Linked DNA regions of Homo sapiens. The protein of the gene in region 4 interacts with the protein of the main gene of each other region in a pairwise test. Each region holds a gene or a part of one and is shown on either strand. Other genes may lie near its edges.

Evidence for each region.
Region 1: the proteins of LASP1 (region 4) and YES1 interact in binary tests that used the Homo sapiens proteins (3 or more experiments, as listed by UniProt).
Region 2: the proteins of LASP1 (region 4) and GCM2 interact in binary tests that used the Homo sapiens proteins (3 or more experiments, as listed by UniProt).
Region 3: the proteins of LASP1 (region 4) and INTS11 interact in binary tests that used the Homo sapiens proteins (3 or more experiments, as listed by UniProt).

What each region holds. Positions count from the first base shown.
Region 1 is NC_000018.10:735,643-739,530, forward strand, and holds part of YES1 (tyrosine-protein kinase Yes), read right to left. Parts: intron 1,320-3,888; coding exon 1,166-1,319; intron 1-1,165. UniProt on the Homo sapiens protein: Non-receptor protein tyrosine kinase that is involved in the regulation of cell growth and survival, apoptosis, cell-cell adhesion, cytoskeleton remodeling, and differentiation.
Region 2 is NC_000006.12:10,879,142-10,883,596, reverse strand, and holds the start of GCM2 (chorion-specific transcription factor GCMb), read left to right. Parts: upstream 1-1,555; 5' UTR 1,556-1,803; coding exon 1,804-1,893; intron 1,894-4,455. UniProt on the Homo sapiens protein: Transcription factor that binds specific sequences on gene promoters and activate their transcription. Through the regulation of gene transcription, may play a role in parathyroid gland development.
Region 3 is NC_000001.11:1,318,061-1,321,948, reverse strand, and holds part of INTS11 (integrator complex subunit 11), read left to right. Parts: coding exon of another isoform or gene 1-41; intron 42-855; coding exon 856-953; intron 954-1,419; coding exon 1,420-1,493; intron 1,494-2,424; coding exon 2,425-2,653; intron 2,654-3,888.
Region 4 is NC_000017.11:38,917,835-38,923,110, forward strand, and holds the end of LASP1 (LIM and SH3 domain protein 1), read left to right. Parts: intron 1-770; coding exon 771-944; 3' UTR 945-3,936; downstream 3,937-5,276. UniProt on the Homo sapiens protein: Plays an important role in the regulation of dynamic actin-based, cytoskeletal activities.

The DNA.
Region 1 (3,888 bases), on a different chromosome or scaffold from region 4:
GGCGGAAGTTGCAGTGAGCCGAGATCGTGCCGCTACACTCCAGCCTGGGCTGGGCAACAGAGTGAGACTCCGTCTCAAAAAAACAAACAAAAAAACCTACATATTGGGTACAGTGCAAGATGCTTGGGTGATGGGTGCACTGAAATCACCACTAAAGAACTAGTTTCCCAAAAACTATTGAAAAAAAAAGTGGCAGCTAAATTAGGCCCTAAAGAATGGTTAGGATTTTCACATGTAAAGATTACAGGCCGGGCATGGTGTCTCACGCCTGCCATTTTAGCACTTTGGGAAGCCAAGGCAGGAGGACTGCTTGAGCCCAGAAGTTCGAGACCAGCTTGGGCAACATGGCAAAACTTCGTCTCTACAAAAAATACAAAGAATTAGTCAGGCGTGGTAGTGTGCACCTGTAGTTCCAGCTACTCAGGAGGCTGAGGTGGGAGGATCACCTGAGCCCCAGGAGGTCAAGGCTGCAGTGGGCTGAAATCACGCCACTATACTCTAGCCTGAGCAACAGAGGGAGACCCTATCTCGAAAAACAACAACAACAACAAACATTACAGATAGGAAGGCATTCCAGATGGAGGTAACTGTACAGAAGTATGGAGGTTGAAAGAAAGCACTATGTCTAAAGCAGGGTTTCTCAATCTCAGCACCGCTACCATTTTGGGCCTGATAATTCTGTTGTGGGGGGAAGGGGGGGTTTGCCTGCACATTTCTGTACACTGTAGGAGGTTCAGCAGTATACCTGGCCTCTACCCACTAGATGTCAAGCAGTAGCCCCCAGGTTGTAACCACCAAAAAAGTCTGTAGACATTGTCAGATGTCCCCTGGTGAGTGGCGGTACAGGGCAATATCTCCTCTGACTGAGAACCTCTGGCCTTTCTAGGAAAGAAATTAAAATATATTTGTTGTCATGTCAAAAGAAGTGTAAAGAGGCTACTACTTGCTCTATGTATAATGCAAAGGATACCTAGTCAAGTTCTTTCTTGGAGGAAATAACTATCAGAAAGCCACAGCAGTACATGATTTTATGAATGAAATCAATGTCTCTATGACTCTTCTGAGGGAAGCTAAAACAATTCTTATTCTGGAAAACCCTGTATAGTCAAGAGAGTTAAGCAAAACACACAACACATTACAAGCTTTTATGTAAAAGTAATTTTACCTTGTCTTGCTGTGTATTCATTGTCTTCAATTAACCTTGCTAAACCAAAGTCTGCTATTTTGCACACAAGATTTTCTCCTACAAGAATATTAGCAGCCCGAAGATCTCGGTGAATATAGTTCATTCTTTCAATATATGCCATACCATCAGCAATCTTGGAAAGAGAAAAACAAAAAACACAAGACATACGATACAAAGGGAAGCAGAGAGAAGACAATTATGGTTAATATCAAATTGTGTCACTGAAAATCATATTATTTTAGAAGGAGATGATGGTAACAGGGTATAGTCTAGAAGATAACAGGAAAACCAGAAAACATAATAAAAATGCAGGCTAAATTCAGATTTCAAAAATCTAACACTGGCTGGGTGCGGTGGCCCACACCTATAATCCCATTAATTTGGGAGGCCGAGGCAGGTGGATCATTTGAGGTCATGAGTTCGAGATCAGCCTGGCCAACACGGTGAAACCCTGTCTCTATTAAAAATACAAACATTAGCTGGGTGTGGTGGCACATACCTGTAGTCCCAGCTACTTGGGAGGCTGAGGCAGGAAAATCACTTGAACCCAGGAGGCAAAGGTTGCAGTGAGCCAAGATTGTGCCACTGCACTCCAGCCTGGGAAACAGAGCGAGACTCAGCCTCAAAAAAAATAAAACCTAACATTACTCTGAAGACCAAGATTAACCCTCCTAATGTCTTCTTGTGTCTGTGGTTAGGAGAAGAGGTAAATCACAAGGTAATTTAGTACCTCTGGATACAAGCTCATCAAGGTCTCTATCAGGCACAACCTAAGATGACATGGTGATAAAGGTATTAACCACAAGGTATAGGTTCCCAAACTACAGCTTGTAGGCCAAAAGTGGCCTGCAGCCTGTTTTTGCACAGCCAGAGAACTAAAACTGTTTTTTACATTTTGATTGATTGACTGAGACGGGGTCTCACTCTGTCACGCAGGTTGGCGTGCAGTGGTGCAATCGTGGCTCACTGCAATCTCTATCTTCTGGGCTCAAGCAATTTTCCCACCTCAGCCTAGTGAGTAGCTGGGACTTAGGCATGCGACACCACACCCAGCTAATGTTTGTATTTTTTTGTAGAGATGGGGTTTCACTATGTTGCCCAGGCCCCGCAAAGCGAGATTATAGGAGCCATCTCGCACAGCCTGGTTTTTACATTTTTAAAGGGTTGTAAAAAGAAAAAAGTATGACAGATTGGATGTGGCTCACAAAACCTAATTTTTTTTTTTTTTTAAAAAACAAAAATGGATTGCCAACCTCCCCTACCATAGAGTGTCTAACTCAGAAGCATGAACTGGCGTGGCATATGCCTGTTGCCTATGTATAGTTTCTCAGTATAAAGCTTTTCTGAATTGTCAGATTCTGTGGACATTTGGAGGCTAGGAGGTAAGATTCCAAAACCAGCATGTCAACCAAAGCCAATAATAAGGCCTCTCAAATACCTACCACATATCTGAAGAGAAACTTTTAACAGTTTTCACTATATATTTAAAACAAAAAGTCAGAAGAGTAAAAAAGTCCCATTTTAAACTGTATATATACCATCTTAATTCTTGTGTTGGACTATAGTAAATAACAAATTCAGGCCAGGTGCAGTGGCTCACGCCTGTAATCCCAGCACTTTGGGAGGCCGAGGCGGGCAGATCACGAGGTCAGGAGATCAAGACCATCCTGGCGAACACGGTGAAACCCCGTCCCTACTAAAAATACAAAAGATTGGCTGGGGGTGGTGGTGGGCGCCTGTAGTCCCAGTTACTCGGGAGGCTGAGGCGGGAGAATTGTGTGAACCTGGGAGATGGAGCTTGCAGTGAGCCGAGATTGCACCACTGCATTCCAGCCTGGGTGACAGAGCGAGACTCCCATCTCAAAAAAAAAAAAAAAAAAAAAATTCAGCATACACTTTAGATTACTAATATTTTCTTTGGAACAGCCCTCATCCATTTTAATTTTCTTAAAATTATCTGTTGAAATATAAATACATATAGACTTTACATTTGTGGAAACATCTATTTTCTTGAGATGGAGTCTCGCTCTTGTTGCTCAGGCTGGAGTGCAATGGCGAGATCTTGGCTCACTCCAACCTCCGCCTCCCGGGTTCAAGCGATTCTCCTGCCTCAGCCTCCTGAGTAGCTGGGATTACAGGCGCCCGCCACCACGCCTGGCTAATTTTCAGTATTTTTAGTAGAGACAGAGTTTCACCATGTTGGCCAGGCTGGTCTCGAACTCCTGACCTCAAGTGACCCACCCACCTCGGCCTCTCAAAGTGCTCAGATTACAAGCGTGAGCCACCGCACCTGGCCTGGAAACATCTATTTTCTAAGAAACCGTATGATACAGGACACCACTGGACTAAGAGTTAGATAGCTGGTTCTAATACTCGTTCTGTTACTAACAAGTTTTGTGAATTTTAGATACCTCTCATCTTTTGATACTTCATTAATCTGTATCATTAAGAGCTCACATTGGATTATCTCTGACGTTCCTGCCAGTTCTAAAATTCCATTATTGGCCAGGTAATCCCAATACTTTGGGAGGCTGAGGTGGGAGGATCCTTTGAGCCAAGGACTTTGAGACTAGCCTAAGCAACACAGAGAGATCCCTGTGTCTACAAAAAAAATAATTTTTTAAATTAGCTGGGAATGGTGGCCTGTGCCTGCAGTCCTAGCTACCCAGGAGGCTGAGGCGAGAGGATTGCTAGAGCCCAAG
Region 2 (4,455 bases), on a different chromosome or scaffold from region 4:
TCCGCACCACCGCGATTCTCTAGTCCTCCAAAGCCTCCCAAGACTGTAATGGAGTAAATTCAATTTCGTCGTGATATTTCCAAGACTATATCAGTGAAGTTTTTTTTTAAGAGTTGTGGGCCGGGCGCGGTGGCTCACGCCTTTAATCCCAGCACTTTGAGAGGCCGAGACAGGAGGATCACGAAGTCAAAAAATCGAGACCATCCTGGCCAACTTGGTAAAACCCTGTCTCTACTAACAATACAAAATTAGCTGGTCGCGATGGCGCGCCTGTAGTTCCAGCTACTCGGGAGGCTGAGGCAGGAGAATCGTTTGAACCTGGGAGGCGGAGGTTGCAGTGAGCCGAGATTGCGCCACTGCACTCCAGCCGGGAAGACAGAGTGAGACTCCGTCTCAAAAAAAAAAAAAAAAAAAAAGATTTGTGTTCGGGTGGGTGGCAACTGAGAGCTCGCCGAACCACAACCTCTTATTTAACAGATAAACAGATAAGGAAGCTGAGACCCAGAGGGAGCCAAAGCAGTGGAGAAAGCGAGTTCTTTGGGACTTTTCCCCTCTCCCCTTTCCCTCCTTCCCCAGGCTCCCACCTACCCCAGGCTCCCACCTACCCCGGGCTCATTTCCGCCCCCCACCTCCTCCAGGTTCACTTTGTAGGACTCCGTTCCTGCAGGGCCAGGTCCCTCCGAAGTCCCCGGGAGCGTGAAGGCGCCTGGGCTCGCGAGCATACGCGGAGGCTTGGCGCACCCTGGCACGTCCCAAACAGCAGAGCCAAGACTGCGAGACACTCACAATAGTTAGGGGAAGAGCCGGCAGTGGAGGCCCAAAATGGGCTGACCCCTAACTAGGAGGCGTGGGCGCGGTTATTCAGGCTAGGGCGCACGCGGACGGCAGAGGGGCCCACGCACGGTTCCCATGCTCTCCTGGAATTGAGTGTTGGCTCTCAGGGGACTTTGCTGGAAAGCCTCCATCTAAGCCCCTTTCCGAAATCAGGGAAGCTGGACGCGTTTAGAAAAAAGAAAAAAAATAGGCCGGTCGCGGTTGCTCACGCCTGTAATCCCAGCACTTTGGGAGGCCCAGGCGGGCAGATCGTCAGGAGTTCAAGACCAGCTTGGTCAGGGTTTCGCATGGCTAAAACCTGTCTCTACTAAAAATACAAAAATTAGCCAGGGTGGTGGCACGGACCTGTATTCCCAGCTACTCGGGAGGTTGAGGCAGGAGAATCGCTTGAACCTGGGAGGCAGAGGTTGCAGTTAGCTGAGATGGCGCCACTGCACTCTAGCCTGGGCAACAGAGTGAGACAAAAAAGAAGAAAAGAAAAGAAGAAAATAATAAGGTTTTAAACTTAAAGGATACATTCCTACTTACCCTCTCCACCCCCACCCTCTGGCTGCAGTTTCCATTTGCTTCCAGGGCTGAGTTTAACCTCCACCTCCGTTCCTGGGACTGTGGTGGAGGGGGCGACCGGCCCCTGGAGCGTGGGCGCTAGCGAGGTAGGCGAGACAGGGCGGAGCCCCCCGGAGGTATATCTTTATAAAGGAGGGGGCAGCTGCCAGAGGTCGATGCTGCCGTTCGGGTGGAGAACGTTCAGCACCGCGGCCAAGGACAAGGCCCCGCCCGGGTCCATAACCATTGTCCCCAGCTTCCAGATATCTAAACAGCCTCTCTCTCTTTCTCTCTCTCTGCACCTCCCCTTCACACACCCCACTTTCTTCTTTAAAGAGAAGAAAAAAAACCCACCTGGCGCACCTGTCCTTTTTTCTTCTATTTTTCAGAACCCTGGGCGGAAAGCGCGAGCGAGTTGGGCAGATGCCGGCGGCCGCGGTGCAGGAAGCGGTCGGCGTGTGCTCCTACGGGATGCAGCTCAGCTGGGACATCAACGATCCGCAGATGCCTCAGGTAAGTGAACCGGGTGTGTGCGGGCACGCGGGGCGCTGTCCATCCGAAGGAGGGAGAATGGCATTCGAGTTCTTGAAGAGTCTGCGGACGGACCATACACACACACACACACACACACACACACACACACACACACACACACACACACATACCCGCAAAATTTCTGGGTTTCTGAGGCCCTCTCAAGTGTAGAAAGAAAACTGGACTCTACAAAAGGCTGAGTTGGGTTTAGAAATGTGTCTTCTTGGCCGGGCGCTGTGGTTCATACCTGTAATCCCAGCACTTTGGGAGGCTGAGGCGGGTGGATCATCTGAGGTCGGGAGTTCAAGACCAGCCTGACCAACATGGAGAAACCCCGTCTCTACCAAAAATACAAAATCAGCCCAGCGTGGTGGCGCATGCCTAAAGTCGCAGCTACTCGGGAGGCTGAGGCAGGAGAATCGCTTGAACCCGAGAGGCAGAGGTTGCGGTGAGCCAAGATCACGCCATTGAACTCCAGCCTGGGCAACAAGAGCAAAACTCCATCTCAAAAAAAGAAGAAGAAGAAGAAGAAGAAATGTGTCTTCTCCCAGCAATTTCCTTGTGCTTGCCTGAAATCACAAGCAAAGCAGCAGGAAATGTTGGTCAGGCTCCACATTCCCAGTCTTGGGGAGAGCGGGACGCCTGTCCTTTCACTTCCCTTTAACCAAGGTAGAAATTAGGTGCCTCTCTCCTTATTCATTTACTTTAAATCCATGAGGAAGCTAAGGAGAAAATCTAAGCAGATGTAAATACCACTGCTTCTCATGCAGCAAAACTGAGGTACAACTGTAAAGTGAATCTAATGACCTAAATTTAAAACAAGTAGCCCGACTTGAGCAATTTGCTCAGACCTCCCTAACTGCTCAGAGGAAGGAGGCCCCATAGTCATGCCAACAAGGCCACCTGTACCCAAAACTTACTTCTTCTCTAATGACAAGCAAATCATCATTCTTTTAGGGTGAATTTGTTGTATTTTGCTTTATTTCAATAAAGCAAAAATGGTTTGGAGCCAAGTCCAAAGAATGACTGGGGTGGATGAAGTGGTGAATGAAGTGGGTGGTTTGAAGCCAGTTCCAGAGAATGACCAATTATCATTAGTCACACTGGTTAGGGCCAAAATTGAGTGATGTTGAAGTCCTGGCTGTAGGGGGTGGGGGGTGTAGAATGAGAGTTGCTTCCCTGCCATTTGCAGATGTGGGCTTCCAGCAATGTTGTGGCACAGGGATAAAAGAGATGGGTCATTTTGTCCGCAACTAAAATGTGTCTGATAGGTGTTCAGATGAATAACAATTCATTGCAACATTGTGTCGCCTCTCATAGAGGTCAGCACTTTTTTGGATCCATATATTTGTAGTAGGTTAGGTGTGTTTTACTCCTTTGTTTTTGTTTGTTTGTTGGGGTTTTTTGTTGTTGTTTGTTTGTTTTTTGAGGCGGGGTTTAGCTCTTGTTGCCTAGGCTGGGGTGCAATCACACGATCTCAGCTCACTGCAACCTCCATCCCCCAGGCTCCAGCGATTCTCTTGCCTCAGCTTCCCGAGTAGCTGGGACTACAAGCATGCGCCACCACGCCCAGCTAATTTTGTATTTTTAGTAGAGATTGGGTTTCTCCATGTTGGTCAGGCTGGTCTCGAACTCCTGACCTCAGCTGATCCACCCGCCTTAGCCTCGCAAAGTGCTGGGATTACAGGCGTGAGCCACCGTGCCTGGCCCACTCCTTTGTTTTAAAGTCTGCCTACTTTAGAGTCACATGGTACCATTTTCATGAAAGTGGACCACAGTACAGCAAGTGCATCTCATTCTGTTTCTGTCCATGTACATCTTCACAGGAAACAATCATATCTTGCATTTTAGAAAAGTCACATCCAAGTAATGTAATTATGGTTCATCTCTCAAGCATTTGCTAGACTTCCCATGTCAATATGAACTTTTTTTTAGGAGACTGGTTGTTAAGCAGGAAGCATGTGTGTAATATCTCAAACGGGCCAGGCACACTGGGACATGGAGAAGTGAAGAAACTTAGCATCGCCCTGCTCTGGGTAACCGAGTGAGCAAGTTAAACTACCTGTCTGACCTTGAGAGAGTCCTTGAATTTGCCTTAGTCTCAGGCTACTTACTCACTTGTCATCAAGTGGTAGAGTGAGATAACCATCTCAAACTCTCCTCCAGGTCTACGATCAGGTTCAGTGTCTATGTGTGTGTATGTACACACACACACAACATGCCAACACTTGAGAGCAAGTGAAACCCAATCCTTGACATCCTCTATTCTTGTACTGATTTTAAAAATACAATCTCTGTGGCTTCATTGCCAGGGTCACTACCTCAGTAGCTCGTGTGAGGCATGGGGGCCTAGTCTACATCCTTAAGGGAGAGCTAAAGAAATGCTGTTTTCTGGAAAATTGTCAATTTGTTACTAAGATCCTTAAGTTAAAATATTCACTTTTAAAACAAAGATATTAGCATTTAATATAAGCTTGGAGTTGATAGCACATCATTATATATTTCATTTGTGACTTACCTTACATTGATGTATCATGTCAA
Region 3 (3,888 bases), on a different chromosome or scaffold from region 4:
TGGTGCTGGCTTTGGACACTTCGAGTGGCTGGCAGGGGGAGGTGGGTGGGATTCAAGGGGAAAACTGTTCACTGCCATCAGACTCCTGCCCAGGCACAGTCTGTGCAGGGGCCGTGACCCTTTCCTCTCGGGCCCCCAGGCCACATGAGGGGGCTGAGTGTGCCTTGGCTGGCCAAGGCCTCTGGCTGGAGCAGCTGGGCAGGGCTGCTTGGCTGTCAGGAGTGTGGGAGGGCTGCAGATGAGGGTCTGTGTTGGGGGCTGCATGGTGTGCAGTGGTGTGAGGCTCGTGTTGCCACGCTGGCCACTGCTGGACCACTGGCACCGTGTTCGCTATGGCATGGCTGAGGCTGTGTGGCGCCCCTCCACAGCCGCACCACCAGAGAACACCCAGTGCCAGCACTTAGTCACTTACTGCCTTGCCTGCCTGGGGAAAGATCCTGGAGAAGGTGGCCTCATTGGTTTGCAGCTCTGCTGGGGGTCCAGCCACAGCCCAGGAGTGACTCTGACCGAGGTGTTGGCCCCACAGACCAGCCGTTGTCTCTGTTGGAGGCTGAGGGCCACAGCACAGTGCCCACTACTTAGCCAGCAGGCCGTGGCCACCTTAAGAGGCCAGGGGAAGCTGGCGGGGGAGGGCGTGTGGGCTGCCAGCCTCCACCCTGGACATGATGGTGTGGGGCATGGTCCCCTGTGTCCCCCTTCCTGTGAGTAGGGGTGGCCCTGCTTCTTGGCCCATGTGTCTGTCCACACAGCAGACTTGGTCCGGTTTCCTCAGTGCACTGGGGTCCTGCAGAGCTTGGGGAGGCAGCACAGGGGGCGGGGGGCGCAGCAGTGACTCATCTGCCCTCCCTCGAGTAGGGGCCGGCCAGGACGTGGGCCGAAGCTGCATCCTGGTCTCCATTGCGGGCAAGAATGTCATGCTGGACTGTGGAATGCACATGGGCTTCAATGACGACGTGAGTCCCTTGGGCAGGAGGCCCAGAGGCTGGGAGAGCCGGCCATCCACAGCTGGACCCTGGGCCTCAGAGCCGGGACAGTGGGGTGGTGGGCAGCAGTGGTTGTGCTTGGATGGCTGCACCCTGTGGGGAGCAGGGATGGGTGGGCCTGGCCGAGGTGAGCCCCTGCATGGTGGGGTCCCCCTGTGCTGGCGCTGAGCCCCAGCCCCGGGGTCCTGTAGGCTGGACTCCGTGAGACCCTGGGCTCAGCTTCCAGCTCACATCTGTCAGTGAGGTTGGGGGTAACCTCGGCCCCTCCGGATGCTGTGAGCAGCCAGGGGTCCTGGTGCCACCTGCGGGATGGGAGTGCCCAGCCTGAGTCTGCACATAGAACCCCCCTTCCTGGGGGCCCCTCCCTGGGGCATGGGTGGCCCCAGATGCTGCCTGGAGACCACTGTGCAACCTGAAACCCCCACATCCTTCCTAGCGACGCTTCCCTGACTTCTCCTACATCACCCAGAACGGCCGCCTAACAGACTTCCTGGACTGTGTGATCATTAGGTGGGTTCCTGTTGGGGGCCTTGAGGGTCCCATGTCTGTGCCTGTGGGGCTTGGGCCACCTTGCTTGGTCTCGGCAGCGTTTGGCAAGGGGCCTGTGCCATCCTTGATCCTCAGGGGGCTTCTAGGCCCCAGGATCTGCTCCCTGCCTGCCTTACTGGTCACACACATGGCCTGGTCTCTGTCTGTTCTTCCGGCCCTGCCCTCTGAACCCTACTTTCTGAACCCGGCCCTCCAGGCTTCACCCTCTCTGATGCCTTCACTGTCTCAGGATCTTTAAACCCCACTGTCTTGTTGGCGATTCCAGAGTCCCGAGTCTGCCCTGACCCCAGCCTTTAGGGTTCAGCAGCTCATGACCCGCTGGTCTGGGTGGCCTCGTCTGGACGGCCACAGCACTCCTGCTGGCCCCCTGCCCTTCCCTGCCCTGTCCTCCCCAGCAGCCAGGCCCGTGAAGCCTGGAGAAGCCCCTTCTCCTCTCCGGAGGCAGTGTCCTCAGCTGCCCCTGAGCCCCTCGTGGTTGTGGTTTCTTCTCAGACACGGTGGGGTCCCCAGTGCCTTCCTGGGGCTTGCCAGGCGCTGCCCTTGCCCTCAGGTCTGTGCCACCTTCACCTGCAGCTCCACTCAGCCTGTCCTGACTGCCTGAAAAGCCAGCGGCTCCCCTATGCGCGGTTCCCTCAGCAGCTTTGCATTGTCTCGCGAGCATGTCGCCGTCACCGACGTGTTCAATTTCCCGTTTGCTTATTGCCTTGCTAGACTTTGAGACTGAAAGTTCCAGGGAGACAGTTTTGTGTTTGCTCATTACTGACTCTTCGGTACTCGGGATGAGGCCTGGCGCACAGCAGGCGAATGAAGGGGCCAGTGACCCACAAGCCCAGAGCGGGGGTGAAGGCTGGGGCAGGGTGGGCCCAGGCTGACCTGTGCTGCGTCCCCCTAGCCACTTCCACCTGGACCACTGCGGGGCACTCCCCTACTTCAGCGAGATGGTGGGCTACGACGGGCCCATCTACATGACTCACCCCACCCAGGCCATCTGCCCCATCTTGCTGGAGGACTACCGCAAGATCGCCGTAGACAAGAAGGGCGAGGCCAACTTCTTCACCTCCCAGATGATCAAAGACTGCATGAAGAAGGTGGTGGCTGTCCACCTCCACCAGACGGTCCAGGTCAGGTTCCCAGGGCCACAGCTGGCACAGTCACTGCCCACCCCCACACCAACCATGCCCTCCGCCCGTTCTACACAGTTTCTGGAAGGCTGGGGCCTCAGGGTGAGCCCACCCCACCTCACTCTTGCGTCCAGCACCGTGGGGACACCAGGAGGCGTCAGCGCGAGGATGCGGGTCCCAGACCAGACTGGGCGCCGACCCGGGAGAGCACGTGCAGGGTGGGGGTATGCACCGGCTTATGAACCCACCAGGCTCTGTCCGAGCGGCATTGAAATGGCCAGAGTGGGACAGGCTGGTGCCCTCAGAGCGCTTGGAGCGGCCAGAGACTCGCTGGAGCTCCCGGGGTGTTGCCGGGCAGGGAGGCAGGGGCTGGAGGGGAGATGGGCCAGCTCTGGAGGGTGCCTGGTTCTGGGTGTGGGTCAGGGAAGAAGTGAAGGTTAAATCAGCGAGTGACAGGTGAAATTCCATTTCTGACAAAGATTATGGGTTTGTCTGTGTCTCACTCGAATCTCTGGGTATTGCTTTTATATTTCTTGAAACTATATTAGGTACCTATGTATTTTGGAACATTTAATTTTCTGATTGAACTTGTCAAAATGAAGTATGTTTATCTTTTTTGTTGTGAAACTTTAATTTTTTTTTTTTTTTGACAGTGTCTCACTTTGTTACCCAGGCTGGAGTGTGATCTTGGCTCACTGCAGCCTCGGCCTCCCGGGTTGAGGTGATCTCCCACCTCGGCCTCCCAAGTAGCTGGGACTACAAGCATGTGCCCATACGCCCAGCTAATTTATTTTGGTATTTTTTGTAGAGATGGGTATGTGTTGCTAAGGCTCTCGAACTCCTGGGCTGGGCTCCAGGGATCCTCCCACCTCAGCCTCTCAAAGTGCTCGGATTACAGGCATGAGTCACCACACCTGGCAACTCCCTCAGTACATTTTAAACCCAGAAAGACATCATTTCTAATGCCTGGTAACACCAACATTTGCTTAGTTTTATTTATATATTTATCCTTTTTGTTGGGCTTCCTGCATTTTTTCTACTTTTTACTTGGGATAATTTGCCTTCTGCCTGAAGAATATGAGTGTGGGTCTGCTGGTGCTGAATTCTGTCAATTTTTATTTGCCTTGGCCAGGCGCGGTGGCTCACGCCTGTAATCCCAGCACTTTGGGAGGCCGAGACAGGCGGATCACGAGGTCAGGAGATCGAGACCATCCTGGCTAACACGGTGAAACCCT
Region 4 (5,276 bases):
ATGTACCACTAAGCCTAACTAATTTTTTATTTTTTGTTGAGATGGGCTCACGCTAGTACTTTGGGAGGCCGAGGCGAGCGGATCACTTGAGACCAGGAGTTTGAGACCATCGTAGCCAACATGATGAAACCCTGTCTCTACAAAAAAGTACAAAAATTAGCCGGGCATGGTGGTACACGCTTATAGTCCCAGCTACTTGGGAGGCTGAGGCAGGAGAATCGCTTGAACCCGGGAGGCGGATGTTGCAGTGAGCCAAGATCACACCATTGCACTCCAGCTTGGGTGACAAAGCAAGACTCCATCTCAAAAAAAAAAAAAAAAAGAGGGAGTTGGGGGGTCTTACTGTGTTTCCCAGGCTGATTTCAAACTTCTGGGCTCAAGCAGTTCTCCTGCCTTGGCCTCCCACAGTGCTGGGATTACAGGCGTGAGCCACTGCACCTGGCCTGCATGTCGTATTTTTAGACATTACTCTGTCATCATGGCTGGTGGACCTTACTGCAGTCCTGTTCAGGGAGGTGGGGCAGAGCTGATGTGACCCGGTCCCTGCTCTGCCTCTGGCCCTTAGTAGCTGCCAAAGGTTGTAAAAGATCGATTGCTCTCAGAAAGCAAGACACAGAGGTTAAGAATCTTTGCAGCAGAGCCTGGTGCTCCATTTCTGAGTTCACTGCTCCCCCAGGCTCTGCTCCAGGGTCGTGGAGAGTTAGAAAAAAATGCTCAGACCCAGGTGAGCCGGCATGCAGGGCCCTAGGCTGACCACACTTCCCCCACAGAAGCGGTACCGCGCGGTGTATGACTACAGCGCCGCCGACGAGGACGAGGTCTCCTTCCAGGACGGGGACACCATCGTCAACGTGCAGCAGATCGACGACGGCTGGATGTACGGGACGGTGGAGCGCACCGGCGACACGGGGATGCTGCCGGCCAACTACGTGGAGGCCATCTGAACCCGCAGCGCCCCCATCTGTCTTCAGCACATTCCACGGCATCGCATCCGTCCTGGGCGTGACCCGTCCATTCTTCAGTGTCTCTGTTTTTTAAAACCTGCGACAGCTTGTGATTCCTACCCCTCTTCCAGCTTCTTTTGCCAACTGAAGCCTTCTTCTGCCACTTCTGCGGGCTCCCTCCTCTGGCAGGCTTCCCCCTTGATCGACTTCTTGGTTTTCTCTCTGGATGGAACGGGCATGGGCCTCTCTGGGGGAGGCAGGGCTGGAATGGGAGACCTGTTGGCCTGTGGGCCTCACCTGCCCCTCTGTTCTCTCCCCTCACATCCTCCTGCCCAGCTCCTCACATACCCACACATTCCAGGGCTGGGGTGAGCCTGACTGCCAGGACCCCAGGTCAGGGGCTCCCTACATTCCCCAGAGTGGGATCCACTTCTTGGTTCCTGGGATGGCGATGGGGACTCTGCCGCTGTGTAGGGACCAGTGGGATGGGCTCTACCTCTCTTTCTCAAAGAGGGGGCTCTGCCCACCTGGGGTCTCTCTCCCTACCTCCCTCCTCAGGGGCAACAACAGGAGAATGGGGTTCCTGCTGTGGGGCGAATTCATCCCCTCCCCGCGCGTTCCTTCGCACACTGTGATTTTGCCCTCCTGCCCACGCAGACCTGCAGCGGGCAAAGAGCTCCCGAGGAAGCACAGCTTGGGTCAGGTTCTTGCCTTTCTTAATTTTAGGGACAGCTACCGGAAGGAGGGGAACAAGGAGTTCTCTTCCGCAGCCCCTTTCCCCACGCCCACCCCCAGTCTCCAGGGACCCTTGCCTGCCTCCTAGGCTGGAAGCCATGGTCCCGAAGTGTAGGGCAAGGGTGCCTCAGGACCTTTTGGTCTTCAGCCTCCCTCAGCCCCCAGGATCTGGGTTAGGTGGCCGCTCCTCCCTGCTCCTCATGGGAAGATGTCTCAGAGCCTTCCATGACCTCCCCTCCCCAGCCCAATGCCAAGTGGACTTGGAGCTGCACAAAGTCAGCAGGGACCACTAAATCTCCAAGACCTGGTGTGCGGAGGCAGGAGCATGTATGTCTGCAGGTGTCTGACACGCAAGTGTGTGAGTGTGAGTGTGAGAGATGGGGCGGGGGTGTGTCTGTAGGTGTCTCTGGGCCTGTGTGTGGGTGGGGTTATGTGAGGGTATGAAGAGCTGTCTTCCCCTGAGAGTTTCCTCAGAACCCACAGTGAGAGGGGAGGGCTCCTGGGGCAGAGAAGTTCCTTAGGTTTTCTTTGGAATGAAATTCCTCCTTCCCCCCATCTCTGAGTGGAGGAAGCCCACCAATCTGCCCTTTGCAGTGTGCAGGGTGGAAGGTAAGAGGTTGGTGTGGAGTTGGGGCTGCCATAGGGTCTGCAGCCTGCTGGGGCTAAGCGGTGGAGGAAGGCTCTGTCACTCCAGGCATATGTTTCCCCATCTCTGTCTGGGGCTACAGAATAGGGTGGCAGAAGTGTCACCCTGTGGGTGTCTCCCTCGGGGGCTCTTCCCCTAGACCTCCCCCTCACTTACATAAAGCTCCCTTGAAGCAAGAAAGAGGGTCCCAGGGCTGCAAAACTGGAAGCACAGCCTCGGGGATGGGGAGGGAAAGACGGTGCTATATCCAGTTCCTGCTCTCTGCTCATGGGTGGCTGTGACAACCCTGGCCTCACTTGATTCATCTCTGGTTTTCTTGCCACCCTCTGGGAGTCCCCATCCCATTTTCATCCTGAGCCCAACCAGGCCCTGCCATTGGCCTCTTGTCCCTTGGCACACTTGTACCCACAGGTGAGGGGCAGGACCTGAAGGTATTGGCCTGTTCAACAATCAGTCATCATGGGTGTTTTTGTCAACTGCTTGTTAATTGATTTGGGGATGTTTGCCCCGAATGAGAGGTTGAGGAAAAGACTGTGGGTGGGGAGGCCCTGCCTGACCCATCCCTTTTCCTTTCTGGCCCCAGCCTAGGTGGAGGCAAGTGGAATATCTTATATTGGGCGATTTGGGGGCTCGGGGAGGCAGAGAATCTCTTGGGAGTCTTGGGTGGCGCTGGTGCATTCTGTTTCCTCTTGATCTCAAAGCACAATGTGGATTTGGGGACCAAAGGTCAGGGACACATCCCCTTAGAGGACCTGAGTTTGGGAGAGTGGTGAGTGGAAGGGAGGAGCAGCAAGAAGCAGCCTGTTTTCACTCAGCTTAATTCTCCTTCCCAGATAAGGCAAGCCAGTCATGGAATCTTGCTGCAGGCCCTCCCTCTACTCTTCCTGTCCTAAAAATAGGGGCCGTTTTCTTACACACCCCCAGAGAGAGGAGGGACTGTCACACTGGTGCTGAGTGACCGGGGGCTGCTGGGCGTCTGTTCTTTACCAAAACCATCCATCCCTAGAAGAGCACAGAGCCCTGAGGGGCTGGGCTGGGCTGGGCTGAGCCCCTGGTCTTCTCTACAGTTCACAGAGGTCTTTCAGCTCATTTAATCCCAGGAAAGAGGCATCAAAGCTAGAATGTGAATATAACTTTTGTGGACCAATACTAAGAATAACAAGAAGCCCAGTGGTGAGGAAAGTGCGTTCTCCCAGCACTGCCTCCTGTTTTCTCCCTCTCATGTCCCTCCAGGGAAAATGACTTTATTGCTTAATTTCTGCCTTTCCCCCCTCACACATGCACTTTTGGGCCTTTTTTTATAGCTGGAAAAAACAAAATACCACCCTACAAACCTGTATTTAAAAAGAAACAGAAATGACCACGTGAAATTTGCCTCTGTCCAAACATTTCATCCGTGTGTATGTGTATGTGTGTGAGTGTGTGAAGCCGCCAGTTCATCTTTTTATATGGGGTTGTTGTCTCATTTTGGTCTGTTTTGGTCCCCTCCCTCGTGGGCTTGTGCTCGGGATCAAACCTTTCTGGCCTGTTATGATTCTGAACATTTGACTTGAACCACAAGTGAATCTTTCTCCTGGTGACTCAAATAAAAGTATAATTTTTACCTGCGGACTTGGTTTCCTCTCTGGCTCTGAGCTGCTGTTGTGTGTGTCTGTGTGTGGGTGTGTGTCTCTAGCTGTAAGGTGCTGCTGTGTGTGTGTGTGTCTAGCTGTAAGGTGCCACTGTGTGTGTGTGTGTGTGTGTGTCCTGTCTGCTTGGGGGCACTGGCCTGTGGCCCTCCTGGGACCTCTGCTGCCCCTCGGGGAGAGAATGACTTGTCTGGATGCCAAGGGGGAGTTTGCTGCTGTCTGTCAGGCCCTTGGCCCCTACTTCCTCCTTGCTGAGAACTCCCCACCAACCTACTTCTGGCTTTCCACCCGCTCATTCCTCTCTGCCCAACTTGGTGATGCTCCCGGAAGCTTCCCTGAGCTCCGTCTCGTATTACTGTGTCACTTCCTCAGTGACATATCTGTCTCCCCACTAGCCAGAGCCCTTGGGGCAGGTGATGAGTCTAATTCATCTCTAAATCCCGGGTACCTGCCCAGGAGCGGTGCGGAGCTGTTGAATTAATGAATGAGCTTGGCTGGGGAGCAGTTCTAGCACTCTGCCGCTGCCAGGCAGAGAGCAGGAGCTCCACGCATTTGAGGAACGAGATGACAGGGCATTCCACAGTGGGACGGGACCTGGATAAAGCTGTCTGTAAGGTGGCCTGGCAACCCAAAGCACTATTCACAGTGCCTTCTGAATGTAATCTTTAATACACATCCCCTTTCTTCCTTCTTCCTCACAACCCTGTGAGAGAAGTAACTACTTATAGAGGGGCTCACTGAAACCCAGAAAGGCAAAGCAGATTGGTGGCAGTCACAGCTAGTGGCAGAGTGGGGCCTGAGACCCCCATGTGATGCTCACAGTCTGGTGCTGTGCCACCCGGCCATGGCAGGCCGCGTGCCTGTGTCTGTGGCAGCTCTTAGATGTGTGTCTCCTGGGCTCCATGTTTTGCTCCAGGTGCCCAGGGTCTGTGACTGGCCAGAAGGCCAGGCGGCCTCCCCTCTTGCTCATTGGGCTTGGGAAGAGGACAGTGGTAGAGAGGGGAATCTGGCCCTGCTCAGTGCTGCCAATCAGCCTCAGGTCCAGCTGCTTGAGGGGCATTTCTCTCTTGGGGCTCAGAACTAAGGAATTCTCCAGCCTCAGAATCACAGCAGGGTGGAGAGGAGGAGGGCTCTCCTGAGCTGAGCATTTGTAATCTGGAGAATGACATGGCCAGAGTCAGCTGAGCTGGGGCAATGTGGGGAGCATCCAAGGCTGCCCTGGGTGGTATAATTAGAGACAGCACTGACACCTGCTCCCCTCCAGGGGTGCAGGCAGCCCAATACTTTCCCAATAGAAGGGAATTAGTTGGCAAAGCTTGCCTC